Linked DNA regions of Homo sapiens. The protein of the gene in region 2 binds, or shares a complex with, the protein of the main gene of each other region. Each region holds a gene or a part of one and is shown on either strand. Other genes may lie near its edges.

The links. Proteins that work in one complex are often made in the same cells at the same time.
Region 1: NUP98 (region 2) and NUP93 share a complex: the UniProt entries of both Homo sapiens proteins name them as parts of the nuclear pore complex.

What each region holds. Positions count from the first base shown.
Region 1 is NC_000016.10:56,733,129-56,740,128, forward strand, and holds part of NUP93 (nuclear pore complex protein Nup93), read left to right. Parts: intron 1-7,000. UniProt on the Homo sapiens protein: Plays a role in the nuclear pore complex (NPC) assembly and/or maintenance. May anchor nucleoporins, but not NUP153 and TPR, to the NPC. During renal development, regulates podocyte migration and proliferation through SMAD4 signaling.
Region 2 is NC_000011.10:3,675,284-3,682,767, forward strand, and holds part of NUP98 (nuclear pore complex protein Nup98-Nup96 isoform 1 precursor), read right to left. Parts: intron 4,426-7,484; coding exon 4,271-4,425; intron 1,338-4,270; coding exon 1,226-1,337; intron 1,094-1,225; coding exon 876-1,093; 3' UTR 1-875. UniProt on the Homo sapiens protein: Plays a role in the nuclear pore complex (NPC) assembly and/or maintenance. NUP98 and NUP96 are involved in the bidirectional transport across the NPC. May anchor NUP153 and TPR to the NPC.

The DNA.
Region 1 (7,000 bases), on a different chromosome or scaffold from region 2:
CCCCAAAGAATAGAGAATTGCTAGGGTATATAATTGGGGGAAGGCAGCGAGGGATGAGGATAGTAAGGGTGGCAGTGTCTGTTCTATGGAGAGCACCCTTTATAGCTCTGTCAAAACATGAGCATCTTATTCTGTAGGGGATGGAAGGTGTCCCTGATGGACTTAAGGCAGGAAAGCATTTCAGAAAGACCTCCCTGACCATGGGGAGGTTGATTGGAGGAACAAGAAGGCTTAGTCGGCGTGCAAGTCAGAGAAGGGGCGAGAGATGAGGGTATGACTTTGCAAAAGGTTTGAGAAGTAGAGCTTGAGATTGGCTGAGTGTTGAGGAGGTGAAAGGGGCGCTGGGGTGACTTGAAGGTGGTTCCTGGCTTACCTGACTGTGTGCTAATTGTTTTACGAAAAGAGACTGGGAACCCACGAGAAGGAAGCATTGGTGGTGGCAGTGGCTAAGGAGAGAGAAGTGATGAGTCTGATTTGGGACATGTGTAGTTTGAGGCACCCATGAGTCATCCAGGTGTAGGTATTAGGTGGACAGTTGGAAATACTGGCTTGGGAAAAGAGTTGGGCTGGACATAGAGATATGAGAATCCCCTTTGTTTTGATAGATTAGAGTCCTCCTAGCTCACTTATTTGCCTTGTATTAATGTCTGTTAATACCTCCATCTCTTCTCCCCTGAATAACATAACGTTTGAAATATTTTATAGCTTTATACTTTTTTATAGCTTCAACTGTGTCCTCAAACAGCTAGATCCCCCATACACAGTTGCTAAAAGCCAGAAGAAACTTTCTCAAACCTTGCCAAAAATTCCTACATTGATCTGTTAGGTACACCAAAGTTATAGTCTTCTCTTCCTTCCTTCATTCATTTAACACATATTTATTGAGCATTAGGTGCTGTTGTTCAGTGTACTGGGAATGGGGCTGTGGACAGACCAGACAAGGTTCCCAGACTCAAGGAGCCTGTTAGGAGACAGACAATAAATGAACAAACAGGTAGGCATGTGATGCCAGAAATTGATAACATACTACCAACGAGGTAAAACAGAAATGTGGTAGAGTGGACGGTGGGGCTGCTTTAGCTGGGGTGTGCTGAGAAGCTTCTTTAAAAAGGAAACCTTTGAGCAGAGATTTGAAGGAATTAAGGGGGTTAGCTAGGTAGGTATTTTGGAGGAGAATATTCCTGCAGATGCAGAGGAAACAGTGACTGAAAGCCCAAGTCAGCAGTGTATTTAGCATATTTGAAGAAGAGTGGAAGGCCATAGGACCAAAGTACATAATCCTGGGGAAGAGTGGTAACAGAAGGAGTTGGGTCGGGGACAGTCATGTAGGCCTCACAGCACAGGGTAAGGACTTTGGATCTCAGCCTGTGAGTGACGGGGGCTATTGAAGGTTTGAGCCCCTTTAGAGGATCCTTCCCAGTGTGGTGTGGAGAACAGACTGGGAAGTGGGAGGGGACAAAGTAAGAACAGGGAGACAGGAAGCTACTATATCACCCAGATGTGACACATGAGAGTGGCTTGCACCAGGATGATAGTGGTAGAAGAGACAAAAAGTGGGTCTGACTCATGTATATATGAATAAATGTAGTGTAGAAATGAATTGCTAATGTAGGGTATAAGAGGAGAAAAGAAGTCAAGGACAATGCCACGGTTTTAGACCTGAGCAACTTCTAGCATGAAGATACTATTTACTGAAATGAGGAAGATGGGGAAGGTCCAAGTCTTTGTTAGATGCTAGAATACGGCCTTCCTCCCCCTAACCCCTCCCACTCCATGCACCCTACTGTCTGTGCCCATCTCTATCTTTCTGACACGGCTGTTGCCCTGCTGAAAAACCTGTGTACCAGTTGGTCCCTTTGGACACCAGAGGTCTGCTGTGAGGATGACATTAGATTATACAAATAAAGCCCATAGTGGGGACTCATACACAGACAGAGCTCAGGAGATGATGTCGGGCAAATAAATGAATGGAGTAAAAGGAATTTAGATGAGGGAAACTTTCTGTAGGTAATGTGTATTGAGGAAGACCATTTGGTAGGTAGGACTTGAGTTGGTGGTAATAATGATAGCTAATGTTTATTGAGTGGTTACTTTGTGACAGGTGAGGGAGATGCAGTTATTTTTCCATTTCACAGATGAGGCCCAGAGAGAGTAATTAATTTGCCCAAAGTCATCGAGCTAAAGAGTGAAGGAGCTGGCTGGAGCTCAGGGCTGCAGTGGAAGGTTGGGTAGGTGTTTCTTTTTGGGAAAAATGGCACAGAGCAGGACATGTGCAAGGATAGTCAGGGACCAAGTAAATCAAGTGACTGGTACACAAGGTTTATTCTGGGAGGTAGAAAGTTAAAAGCAGTGACTCACCTGGATGGATCCCTGTGAATGGGAGCCAGTGAGGTTTTTTGAGCAGGGGCAACAGCCGTGTCAGAAAGAGAGATGGGGTCGGGCGCAGTGGCCCTCGCCTGTATTCCTAGCACTTTGGGAGGCCAAGGCGAGCGGATCACTTGAGGTCAGGAGTTCGAGACCAGCGTGGCAAACATGGTGAAACCCCAAAAATTAGCTGGGCATGGTGGTGCGTGCCTGTTATCCCAGTTACTCGGGAGGCTGAGGCAGGAGAATCGCTTGAACCTGGGAGGTGGAAGTTGCAGTGAGCTGAGATCTCATCATTGCACTCCAGCCTGGGGGACAAAAGTGAAACTCCGTCTCAAAAAAAAAAAAAAAGGAAGCTAGAGGTGGCCACAGAGAGTAGGGTGCATAGAGTTGGGGGCAGGGCTAGGAGGAGGAAGCCCATGTTCTAGCATGTAAGAAGGACTTAGACTTAAAGGAATGAAGGTCTGGCCTTAGGTGGTAGTGATGGGGATGAAAGCAATAGTTAGAGGATGTTGCAAAAATATAAATACCCCATGCTATTTAAATCTGTTTAGGAGCTGGGTGCAGTGGCTCACGCCTGTAAGGCCAGCACTTTGGGAGGCTGAGGCAGGCAGATCACCTGAGGTCAGGAGTTCAAGACCAGCCTAGCCAACATGGTGAAACACCATCTCTACTAAAAATACAAAAATTACCCTGGCGTGATGGCACGTGCCTGTAATCCCAGCTACCCAGGAGACTGAGTCAGCAGGAGAATTGCTTGAAACCGGGAGGTGGAGGTTGCAGTGAGCTGAGATCACGCTATTGCACTCCAGCCTGGGCAACAAAGCGAGATTCCATCTCAAAAATAAATAAATAAATAATCTGTTTCGGTAATGAGAGTTTGGAGAGTGAGGAATATCATGTTATCTGAGTCTGTAGTATTTCGTTTCCTGAGTTTTAGTTAGAGAGTAGCAATAGTTTGGATAATGAGGAATACCTGCCTGCTTGCTATGGAAAAATGTATCTACATGTGTTTGGTTTCTGAGTCTGAGAGTGGAGGGACACCTGTAAGTAAACAATCTGAGGTAACACAGAGATGCAAAGGAACAGGGTGAGTTAGAACCTGGGAGACAGAAGCCAGGGGCAGAGGCGGAGGAGGAGTTGGGGGTGGATAACTGCATTTGGAGACATGGTGGGTGTGACAGTTATGTGCTTGAGAGGAGATGCACCAGTGGTGCCTGGAAACTCACGGTTGGAGTTTGAGTGCACGGGGGCAGGTGTGGATTTGACAGTCATTGCCATTGAGTCTTCAAGGGCAGTGGTGAGACACACACTGTGAAGTAGGGAATTTAGAGCAATATTAAAATTAACAAGTTATTAAAAATTATGTAAGATCACATATACTCATGGAAAAGAATTTGCCCTGACAAGGGAATCAAATGAAAAGTAGAAAAGTCTCCCAACTCTCACCTTGGTAATGCTAGGTTGTTTCTTGCTAAGTCAGTGCTTTGTTTCTTGCTATTCCTTCTAAAAAACTGTGAGTCAACCTTAAGTATACAGCTTAGGGAATTTTTACACATTTATTCACTTATGTGACCACTGTCCATATTGAAATATAAAGCATTTCTGGTACTTTGGTCAGCTCAGATCACCATAATAAAATATCAAAATATCTGTTGTTCTGGCTTAAACAGAAATTTATTTCCTCACAGTTTTGGAGGCTGGAAGTCCGAGATCAGGATGCCAGCATAGTTGGGTTCTGGTGAGGGCCCTCTTCCTCGCTGCTCAGTGTGTAGTCAAGACCTTTCTTTGATGTGTATGTGTGGGGAGAGGTAGGTGGAGGAAAGCAAGCTTTCTGGTGTGTCTAAGGGCACTTATCCCATCCTGAAGACCCCACCCACGTCACCTCATCTGAGTCTAATTACTTCCCAAAGACCCCATCTCCAAATAGCATCACATTGTGGGGTAGGGCTTCAACACAGGAATTCTGAGAGAATACAGTTCAGTCCTTAGTACCCGAAAAGCTCTGCTGTGCTTTCTCCCAATCAGCACTCCCCCTACACTCCCAAGGATAACCAGTATTCTGATCTTTAGTCCCATAGATTCATTTTTTCTGTTTTTAAGATCCATATAAATGGAGTCATACGGTGCTTTTTTTTTTTTCTTTTTGTATCTGGCTTCTTCAGCTCATTGTGATGTCTGTGAAATTCATCCATGTTCTGTGTAGTCTGTAGTTTCTTTTCCATTGCTGTGTGTGGTATACCAAGGTATGAATATACTGCCATAAAAAGCCCAAGTGGGATAATTCTGTAAATGCAATGGTTTTAAAATTATAATGGTAGGGACCCAGACTTTTGTTAGAATCCGCACACCTTCTGCCTCCCAAGTTGTGACAACCAAAAATGTCTCTAGCTATTGCTGAATGTCCCCTGTGGGGCAAAGTTGAGTAGCATTGGTTTAGAGAGAAGAGCCAGAGCCAGAGCCAAAGCCACAGGCCCTTTGGGGCCGACTTGGTGATCTGCCCCTGTTTATGCTAGTTGTAAGACAGAACTAGTATCATTCCTAAGGTTCTCTGTAGAGATAATTTCCATCACCACTAAAATGGGGCTGTTTCCCAGGAAGCATCAAGTAAGTTTAAAGACCGAATTAAAACATCTCACATTTGTAAATTCTTTAAGGTGAGCAGGCCCTTAGAGATCACCTGAGCAACCCCCTCATCCAGAGACGATCCAGCCCCAGGGTCAGAGGGCTGGCGTGGGATGGAGCCAAGCTGTAGTCCACAGCACTTTCTTCCCAGCTGGGCCTTCTGCTGGACAGCCAAGAGTTTATCAGAAAGTTACTATGTGGATAATTTATTTTTCTTTGTGATGCCAGGTTATTACTTCTCTTTGCTCATTGAAGAGGAAATAATACAAGTGATATTTTATGTATCAGGAAAGCTGATACTACCCATTCCTTATTGCAAACATTGAGTCACTGAGGGCAGTACTGCTACTAAATCACCCAAGTCTTTTTCTTCTGTCTAGGTTAATTTATTTTAGGTCTTTGTTTTCTCCAGAACTCTACCTTTTGAATAATGATAAGGTCTCTTTTACTTAGTCTCACAGGGCTGTAAAGAACTTTCCAACAATTTTTTTTTCCCTCTCCTCTCTCTTCCAGAGGCATCTGAAACAATGATGTCTGTCAAGATTTAATTTTTTTGGGGTTGTTGTTGTAATTGACAGCTGACAGATAATAGTAAAAAGTGGAATGATATTGTCATCTAGCTAGTTTATGTATTCAAAAGAGAGGAGAACAGAATCAGTATTAAACTTTTGATACCTTGGGTGGAGGTTTTTCTCATCAATCTTGGATGAGAAAAGAAAGAATCATTCACAAGAATGTTGAACACCATTCTTGTGTTTTACTCCTGTCATAGTCTGATTAATAAGGTTTGAGGGCAGAGTTTCTGCTTAAAATTAAATGCTAAATTTCTTTTTTTTTTTTTTTTGCACCGCCCTTAATCCATTTAATCCTGAGTGGACAACACAGCACATGTTTCAGAGAGCACAGGGTTGGGGGTAAGGTCACAGATCAACAGGATCCCAAGGCAGAGGAATTTTTCTTAGTGCAGAACAAAATGAAAAGTCTCCCATGTCTACTTCTTTCTACACAGACACGGCAACCATCCGATTTCTCAATCTTTTCCCCACCTTTCCCGCCTTTCTATTCCACAAAGCCGCCATTGTCATCCTGGCCCGTTCTCAATGAGCTGTTGGGCACACCTCCCAGACGGGGTGGTGGCCGGGCAGAGGGGCTCCTCACTTCCCAGTAGGGGCGGCCGGGCAGAGGCGCCCCTCACCTCCCGGACGGGGCGGCTGGCCGGGCAGGGGGGCTGACCCCCCCCACCTCCCTCCCGGACGGGGCGGCTGGCCGGGCGGGGGGCTGACCCCCCAACCTCCCTCCCGGACGGGGCGGCTGGCCGGGCAGAGGGGCTCCTCACTTCCCAGTAGGGGCGGCCGGGCAGAGGCACCCCTCACCTCCCGGACGGGGCGGCTGGCCGGGCGGGGGGGCTGACCCCCCCCCACCTCCCTCCCGGACGGGGCGGCTGGCCGGGCGGGGGGCTGACCCCCCCACCTCCCTCCCGGATGGGGCGGCTGGCCGGGCGGGGGGCCGACATCCCCACCTCCCTCCCGGACGGGGCGGCTGGCCGGGCGGAGGGCTGACCCCCCCACCTCCCTCCCGGACGGGGCGGCTGGCCGGGCGGGGGGCCGACCCCCCCACCTCCCTCCCGGACGGGGCGGCTGGCCGGGCAGAGGGGCTCCTCACTTCCCAGTAGGGGCGGCCGGGCAGAGGCGCCCCTCACCTCCCAGACGGGGCGGCTGGCCGGGCGGAGGGCTCACCCCCCGACCTCCCTCCCGGACGGGGCGGCTGGCCAGGCGGGGGGCTGACCCCCCCACCTCCCTCCCGGACGGGGCGGCTGGCCGGGCGGGGGGCCGACCCCCCCCACCTCCCTCCCGGACGGGGCGGCTGGCCGGGCAGAGGGGCTCCTCACTTCCCAGTAGGGGCGGCGGGGCAGAGGCGCCCCTCACCTCCCAGACGGGGCGGCTGGCCGGGCGGAGGGCTCACCCCCCCACCTCCCTCCCGGACGGGGCGGCTGGCCAGGCGGGGGGCTGAC
Region 2 (7,484 bases):
CATGGTTTGTTTTTGCTTCTGGAAGGGGTAGATGGAGGGTGGGAAATGCTTTGGAGCTAACATGGGATGAACAGGGAGGGTTACCCAACCTGCCATTTTTTATCCAAACTCTGCAGGCAAATCCAGACAGAGTCTCAGCAAGACTGAAAACCAGGGACCAAACCAAACTCTGGGAGCTTCCCACAGACATGTCACATGTGACCAAGGGTTCCTGCACATAGTAGTAGCAAAGGTATGGTGTTCATGGAACTCTAAAGGCAGGAACAAAAACAGCCCTGAAGATCAATCCCTCCGTGACAGGCATTCACTTCTGCCCTAAGTGTGTCAGAAAGATCCCATTTTGTTTCCTAACTCAGGCCAACCCTCCTTTGCCTCCAAAATTCAGTGTTAACTAACCAATTACTTAAGAGACGGATCCCTCTTCCTTCTGTGGATAGTTCATCTGTTAAGGATCCATTATCACCTGTCTCACTCCTCCTAAGGAGTCCTAGTATAAAAGGGCCAGGGTAGGAGTAGGGAAGCTGGTTGGCATGGAGGGTCACAAGATCCAGAATGGCTAGGGATGGAAAAAGAATACCCTGGTTCTTTGGGGGATTCTGCCAAAGGAGCTTTATTGACCATTTTTTTAAAGGAAAAACACTGAATGATCTTGAGGATGGTAAACTGTCTCCTCTTCTGGGTTCCAGAAGCCCTTATGCTACGTTCAGTATTAAGAAAAGCCCTGAACAAGTGGAGGATGCTGCTTCTGGCAGCAGGGAGGGAGGGTAGATGCCACAGCCAACCCAGAGAATGGCAAACAGTGCCAATCCAAACAAGGCAGGGAACCTCTGTGTGGTGTGAATGGGCATGTGACTGTGATGCAAAGTGCCTGGGGCTCACAGGCTCCCAACAGCCAGTTCTCGCAGATAGGACTGGGTAAGGCTGCGCAGTTCGTCCATGGCATAGTCCTCAGGCATGGGAAGCCGGCCAATGTGGGGAGCCAAGAGGCGCAAAGGGACTCGCTGAGGGTCTGGTGTTGAGTCGGAGGTTCTATCAGGAGGATGATGCAGACTCAGCACCACGCGCAGCAGGTTGGCTACACGTTTGGCCATGTCTAGAGAGAAAAACTAGAGTCAAGCACTGAGCATGGGGTCTGGAGAAGGGTGGTAGGCACTGAGGGTGGGGTGTAATAATCATAAAAACAGGAAGCAAGAAGGCAGAAAGAGTGAGGAGGTTAGAGGCTTACCTGACTGAGCCAGGCGATCTTTAGCACTGTAACACTGAATCTGCTCTATCCGACTGCACAGTGAAGTCACTTTGATGTGTAACTGCTCCAGGTCATTACCTGAGCAATCCACCTACAAAGAAGCAGAGAAGCCAATTAATCCAAGGGGAGTTCCTATCACTCCAATCCCACCTATAGACTCTACACAAAACCTTGAAACAACAGTGAGGTGAGGGAGGGGAAAATCCAAGATGATGACACAGGGCCAAGCCACCACCATCTAGTGGAGGACAAGGCACTAATTATGCAGTAATAGCCAAGAGGAAGGTAACACAGTTACCTAGCCTTGGACTAGGAAAAGTCTTGAGATCCCGAACTATACAGCAAGCTTTAATAACACAGCACCAAAAATCAAGATAAATTGGGTTCAGAGAGATGGTATGACTTCTAAAGAGCACACAAGGAAGTAAAAAATGCAGCCAGAACCAACATTTAATTTAGGTCCCCTGACTCCAAGTTTATAGCCTTTTCTAAAACACCAAAAAAGCTGTGTGCAGGGGGCAGGAGGATCAAGAGCAAGACAGGTTATTTGCTCTCATGAAACTGATAGAAAATAAATAAGAAAACACAAAACAGTAATAAATCCTGAAAAATCACAAGCCATGTAGATAATTTAAACAGGTGGATGTGGCAGAGAGAAACTGGATAGCTACTTGAGACTGGAGGACCAAGAGAGGCTTCTTTAAGGAGGTCATATTTAAATTGAGACCTGAATAACAAGGAGAGAGCTCAGCTTTCCAGGCAAAGAGAAGACAGCTAAAACCCCCAAAGGTGGGAATTCAAAGGAGATTTACATGGTGACATGTAGGGTAAGGAGAAGAAGCAGAACAAGATAATACTAGAGAGTTTTTATGTAACATAGGTTTTTTTTTTTTTTTTTTGGGAGAAGGGGGGTCTCGTTATGTTGCTCAGGCTGGTCTCAAGCAATCCTCCTGCCTCAGCCTCCCAAAGTACTAGGATTACAGTCATGCACCACCACATCCAGCTATGTGCTGGCACATTGATAGTACCCTTTGCTTAATCCCTATACTTATCAAGCTATAGTAATTGCTGCTTTACTTGTATGTATCTCCCCCACAAAATCATTATTTTGGTAAGGGCAGAACACATACTGTTTACCTTTATATTCCCCAAACCCACTACAGTGCTTGGCATACAGTGAGTTCTCCATAATAGGTTGTGTGAATGAATTACTCAATATTCAATGAGAAAGTGGTTTCTTCAAGTGATTATTTAGAAATGATGTTCTTGATTCATACTAAAAGTACAGCAAACATTGAATTATGTCTATTATGTGCCAGGCACTGTACTAGGAGTTGGAACTTTGATGAGGATAATAATAGATAACAATTATTAAGCATTTAGTAGAGGCCGAGGTCAGGAGTTTGAGACCAGCCTGGCCAACATGGTGAAACCCCGTCTCTACTAAAATACACACACACACACACAAAGCTGGGTGTGGTGGCACACGCCTGTAATCCCAGCTACTGGGGAGGCTGAGGCAGGAGAATTGTTTGAAGCTGGGAGATGCAGTGAGCTGAGATTGTGCCACTGCCCTCCAGCCTGGGTGACAGAGTAAAACTCTGCCTAAAAAAAAAAAAAAAAAGGCATTTAGTACATGAAAGGTACTATGTAAAACACTTCATGTAGATTTTGTTTAATCTTTGTGAAAATCTGTCAATATGAACTATAATCTGTACTACTGTCTACCCCACCCACCTTTTTCTTTCAGACGAGAGAGGTAGTTAACTTGCTCAAGATTACATAGCCAGTGAATTTGGAAGCCACAAATTGAATCTATAAGTCTGCTTCCAGAACTTGAGCTGTTAACCTCTACACTCTATTGCCTGTAACCGTAAAAGACCTTCCCAAAAGGGGCTTATAGCAACCTGAAAATATGAATAAGTAACTACAATATGGTCTGACAGGTGCACTAGTAGAATAATGTACTAAGTATCTTGGTAGTAAGAAAGTGCAATTAATTATCTCTGGGGAAAAGCAGAGAGAAGTAGGGGTAACAGCAACCTAGATCTTAAAAGGATGAGTTTAAGTGTGCTAGGTAGTGTGGAACATAATATGGTTTGTTAGAAACACCAGAAGTAATTTAGTGTGAGTACAGCAGGCTAGCAAGGCTGGAACGTGGAATAAGAGTGGTAGGAGTAAGGCAGGAAAGGTAAAAGCCTCTAAAAGGACTTGAATCCTATATTTATTATAATGAGTTTGGTTTTTGCACCATAAGCAAGCAGTGGAGACTCATTTTACGACTACAAAGACTGACCTTAAGGCTGCGTGCAGGCGTGCGGTAAGCTCATGCCTGTAATCCCAGCAATTTGGGAGGCCAAGGTGGGCCGATCACTTGAGGCCAGGAATTCAAGACCAGCCTGGCCAATGTGGTGAAACACTATCTCTACTAAAAATACAAAAGTTAGCTGCGTGTGGTGGCACACACCCTATACTCCCAGCTACTTGGGAGGCTGGGGCATGAGACTCACTTAAGACTGGGAGGCAGAGGTTGCAGTGAGCCACGATCACACCACTGCACTCCAGCCTGGATGACAGAGCAAGACTCTGTTCCAAAAAAAAAAAAAAAAAAAAAACTGACCGAAGACATTGACTTTAAAACCCATATTTGCAATTTTAAAACATGCCAAATGATGTGTAAAACAGCTATCCTCACCCTCACCAAATCTCCATTCTTATTTTATCTCTCATCTTTGGGCTTCTCACTCAAACTAGGACTGAACAAGGGGAAGAGACTGTCTATGGACAAGCCTCAGGAATGTCTATTGCACATACTAGTTGGTAATCAACATAAAATAGCATTTTTAAGTTTCGATATAGCTGTCAGAAACGGTTATATCAAATGAGCCTCAGCAAGATGCCTGCTTTGACAGTGCTATCTCTGTCAGTGCATTCTCAAGTGTATACTAAGGCCTTGTGAGGTATCTGAAGATTTAAGGGCCTGAGAAAAGGAAAATCAGGCAGCAGTTTCAGGATCTCAGGTACCTGCTGTATATGGCGGAGCATTTCAATGACTCTAATATAGTCCAGGTAAACAAGCCCAGATGTTTCCCAATCCTGAATTAGGCTGCTGCGCTCTGGAGGTGCCAGGTCTTCCAAGAACCCCTTCAGGTAGTCATAGTTCTCATTAATGATGGCATCTGAAGAAACAAAGTATTGAGCACAATGTCTGCACAAGTGCATAGTTTCCAAAAGTACAGAAGACATGGCAGGAAGACAGAAAGGAAGGAGAAATAATGTTGGCTGGACTTCAGAAGTAAAAGCACATACAGGCATACCTCAAAGATACTGTGGGTTTCATTTCAGACCACCACAATAAAGCAGGTATCACAATAAAATCACAAATTTTTTGGTTTTCCAGTGGATATAAAAGTTATGTTTACACTATACCACTGTCACTTATTAAGTGTGCAACAGCATTATGTCTAAAAAACCAATATACATACCTTAATTTAAAAATATTTTATTGCTAAAAATGTTAATCACTTGAGCCTTCAGCAAGTCATCTTTCTGGTGGTGGAGGGTCTTTCCTTGATGCTGATGGCTGCTGACTGATCAGGGTGTTGCCTGCTGAAGGTTGTGATGGCTATGCTAATTTCTTAAAATAAGATAACTGAAGTCAGTTCTCTCAAACCCAGCTGCTGCTTTATCAACTAAGCTTAAGTAATATTCCATATCCTTTGCTGGCATTTCAACAATGTTCACAGCATCTTCACCAGGAGTAGATTCCATCTCAAGAAACTGCTTTCTTTGCTTGTCTATAAAGCAAACTCCTCATGAGTGACACCAGTTCAGTCACATCTTCAGGCTCCATTTCTAATTCTAGTTATCTTGCTGTTTCCATCACATCTGCAAGTACTTCCCCCACTAAAGTCTTGAACCCTTCAAACTCATCCATGAGGGCTGGATTCAATGCCTTCCATACTCCTGTTATTTAATGTTGATATTTTGACCTCCTTCCATGAATCACAAATGTTTTTTGTGTATTTTTTTGTTGGGGTCTCACTCTCTCACTCAGGCTGGAGCACAGTGGCACGATCTTGGCTCACTGCAACCTCTGCCTCGCAGGCTCAAGTGATCCTCCCTCCAACCTCAGCCTCCCGAATAGCTGCGACCACAGGTGTGTGCCACCAGGCCCGACTAATTTTTTTGTACTTTTGGTACAGATGGGGTTTCACCATGTTGCCCAACCTAATCTCGAACTACTGAGCTCAAGAGATCCACTCATCTTGGCCCCCCAAAGTGCTGGGATTACAGGTGTAAGCCACCATGCCCGGACCCAAATGTTCTTTTTTGTTTTTCTTTTCTTTAAGACAGGATCTCCCTCTGTCACCCAGGCTGGAGTGCAGTGGTGTGATCATGGCTCACTGCAGCCTCAACCTCCTGGGCTCATGCAGTACTCCTGCCTCAGCCTCCTGAGTAGCTGAAATTACAGGAACATAACACCATGCCTGGCCAATCACAAATGTTCCTCTCCCACCATCCGCCCCAGACAGGGTCTCACGGTGTTGCCCAGGAAGGAGTTCACTGGCATGGTCGTGGCTCACTACAGCCTCAACCTCCCTAGGCTCAGGTGATCCGCCAATCTCAGCCTCCCAAATAGCTGGGAATATAGGCACGCACCACCATGCTCAGCTAATTTTTGTATTTTTTGTAGAGATTGGGTTTCACCATGTTGCCCAGGCTGGTCTCGAACTCCTGGGGCTCAAGCAATCTGCCGCTTTGGCCTCCCAAAGTACTGGGATTACAGGTACGAGCCACCGTGCCTGGCCTACAAATACATCTACAATGGTGAATCCTTTCCAGAAGGTTTTCATTTACTTTCCCAGATCCATCAGAGGAATCGCTATCTATATGGCAGCTATAGTCTTATGAAATGTATTTCTTAAATAATAAGGCTTGAAAGCTGAATTACTCCTTTGCCCATGGGTTGCAGAGTAGATGTGTTAGCAGGCATAAAAACATTAACCTCCTTATACGTCTTCATCAGAACTCTTGGCTGACTAGGTGCATCATCAATGAGCAGTAATATTTTGAAAGAAATTTTTTTTTTTTCTGAGCAGGTTTCAACAGTGGGCTTAAAGTATTCAGTAAACTGAGCTATAAACAGATATGCTGTCATCCAGGCTTTGTTTTTCCGTTTACAGAGCACAGGCAGAGTAGATTCAGCATAATTCTTAAGGGCCCTAGGATTTTTAGAATGGTAAATGAGCTTCTGCTTACCATCACCAGCTGAATTAGCCCTAAAGGGAGAGTTAACTTGTCCTTTGCAGCTTTGAAGCCAGGCATTGACTTCTCTTCTCTAGCTATGAAAGTCCTTGGTGGCATCTTCTTTCAATAGAAGGCAGTTTCATCTACACTGAAAATCTGTTGTTTAGTGTAACCATCTTCATCAATGATCTTAGCTAGATCTTCTGGGTAACTTGCTGTACCTTCTCCATCAGCACTTCCTGCTTCACCTTGCACTTTAATGGAATGGAAAGACAGCTTCTTTCCTTAAACTTCATGAAGCAACTTCTGCTAGCTTCAAACGTTTCTTCTGTAGCTTCCTCACCTCTCTCAGCCTTCACAGAACTGAAGGGAGGTTAGGCTTTTGCTTAAGGGAATGTTGTGGCTGGTTTCATCTATCCAGATCACAAAAACTTTCTCCGCATCAGCCAGAAAGCTGTTTCACTTTCATATCATTTATATGTTCACTGGAGTAGCACTTTAAATTTCCTTCAAGAACTTTCCTTTAACACAACTTGGCTGTTTGGCAAAGAGGCTTATCTTTTGTCCTATCTTGGCTTTCAACATGCTTCTCTCTGTACACCTAATCACTTCAAGCTTTTGTTTAAAGTTAGAGTTGTGCTACCCTTCCTTTCACTTGAACATATTTAGAGGCCATTGTAGGGTTATTAACTGGCCTAATTTCGTGATTATTGGGTCTTAGGAAATAGGAAGGCCCAAAGAGAGGGAAAGAGATGGGGATGACCAGTTGATGGAGCAGCCAGAATATGCACATTTATCAACTGACCATCTTATATGGATGCAGTTGGTGGCACCCCAAAACAAAACAGCAACATCAAAGATTGCTACTCACAGATCACCATAACAGATATAGTAATGAAAAAGTCTGAAATAATGTGAGAACCACCAAAATGTGAAACAGAGACAGACATGAAGTAAACATATGTTGGAAAAATGGTGCTAATATACT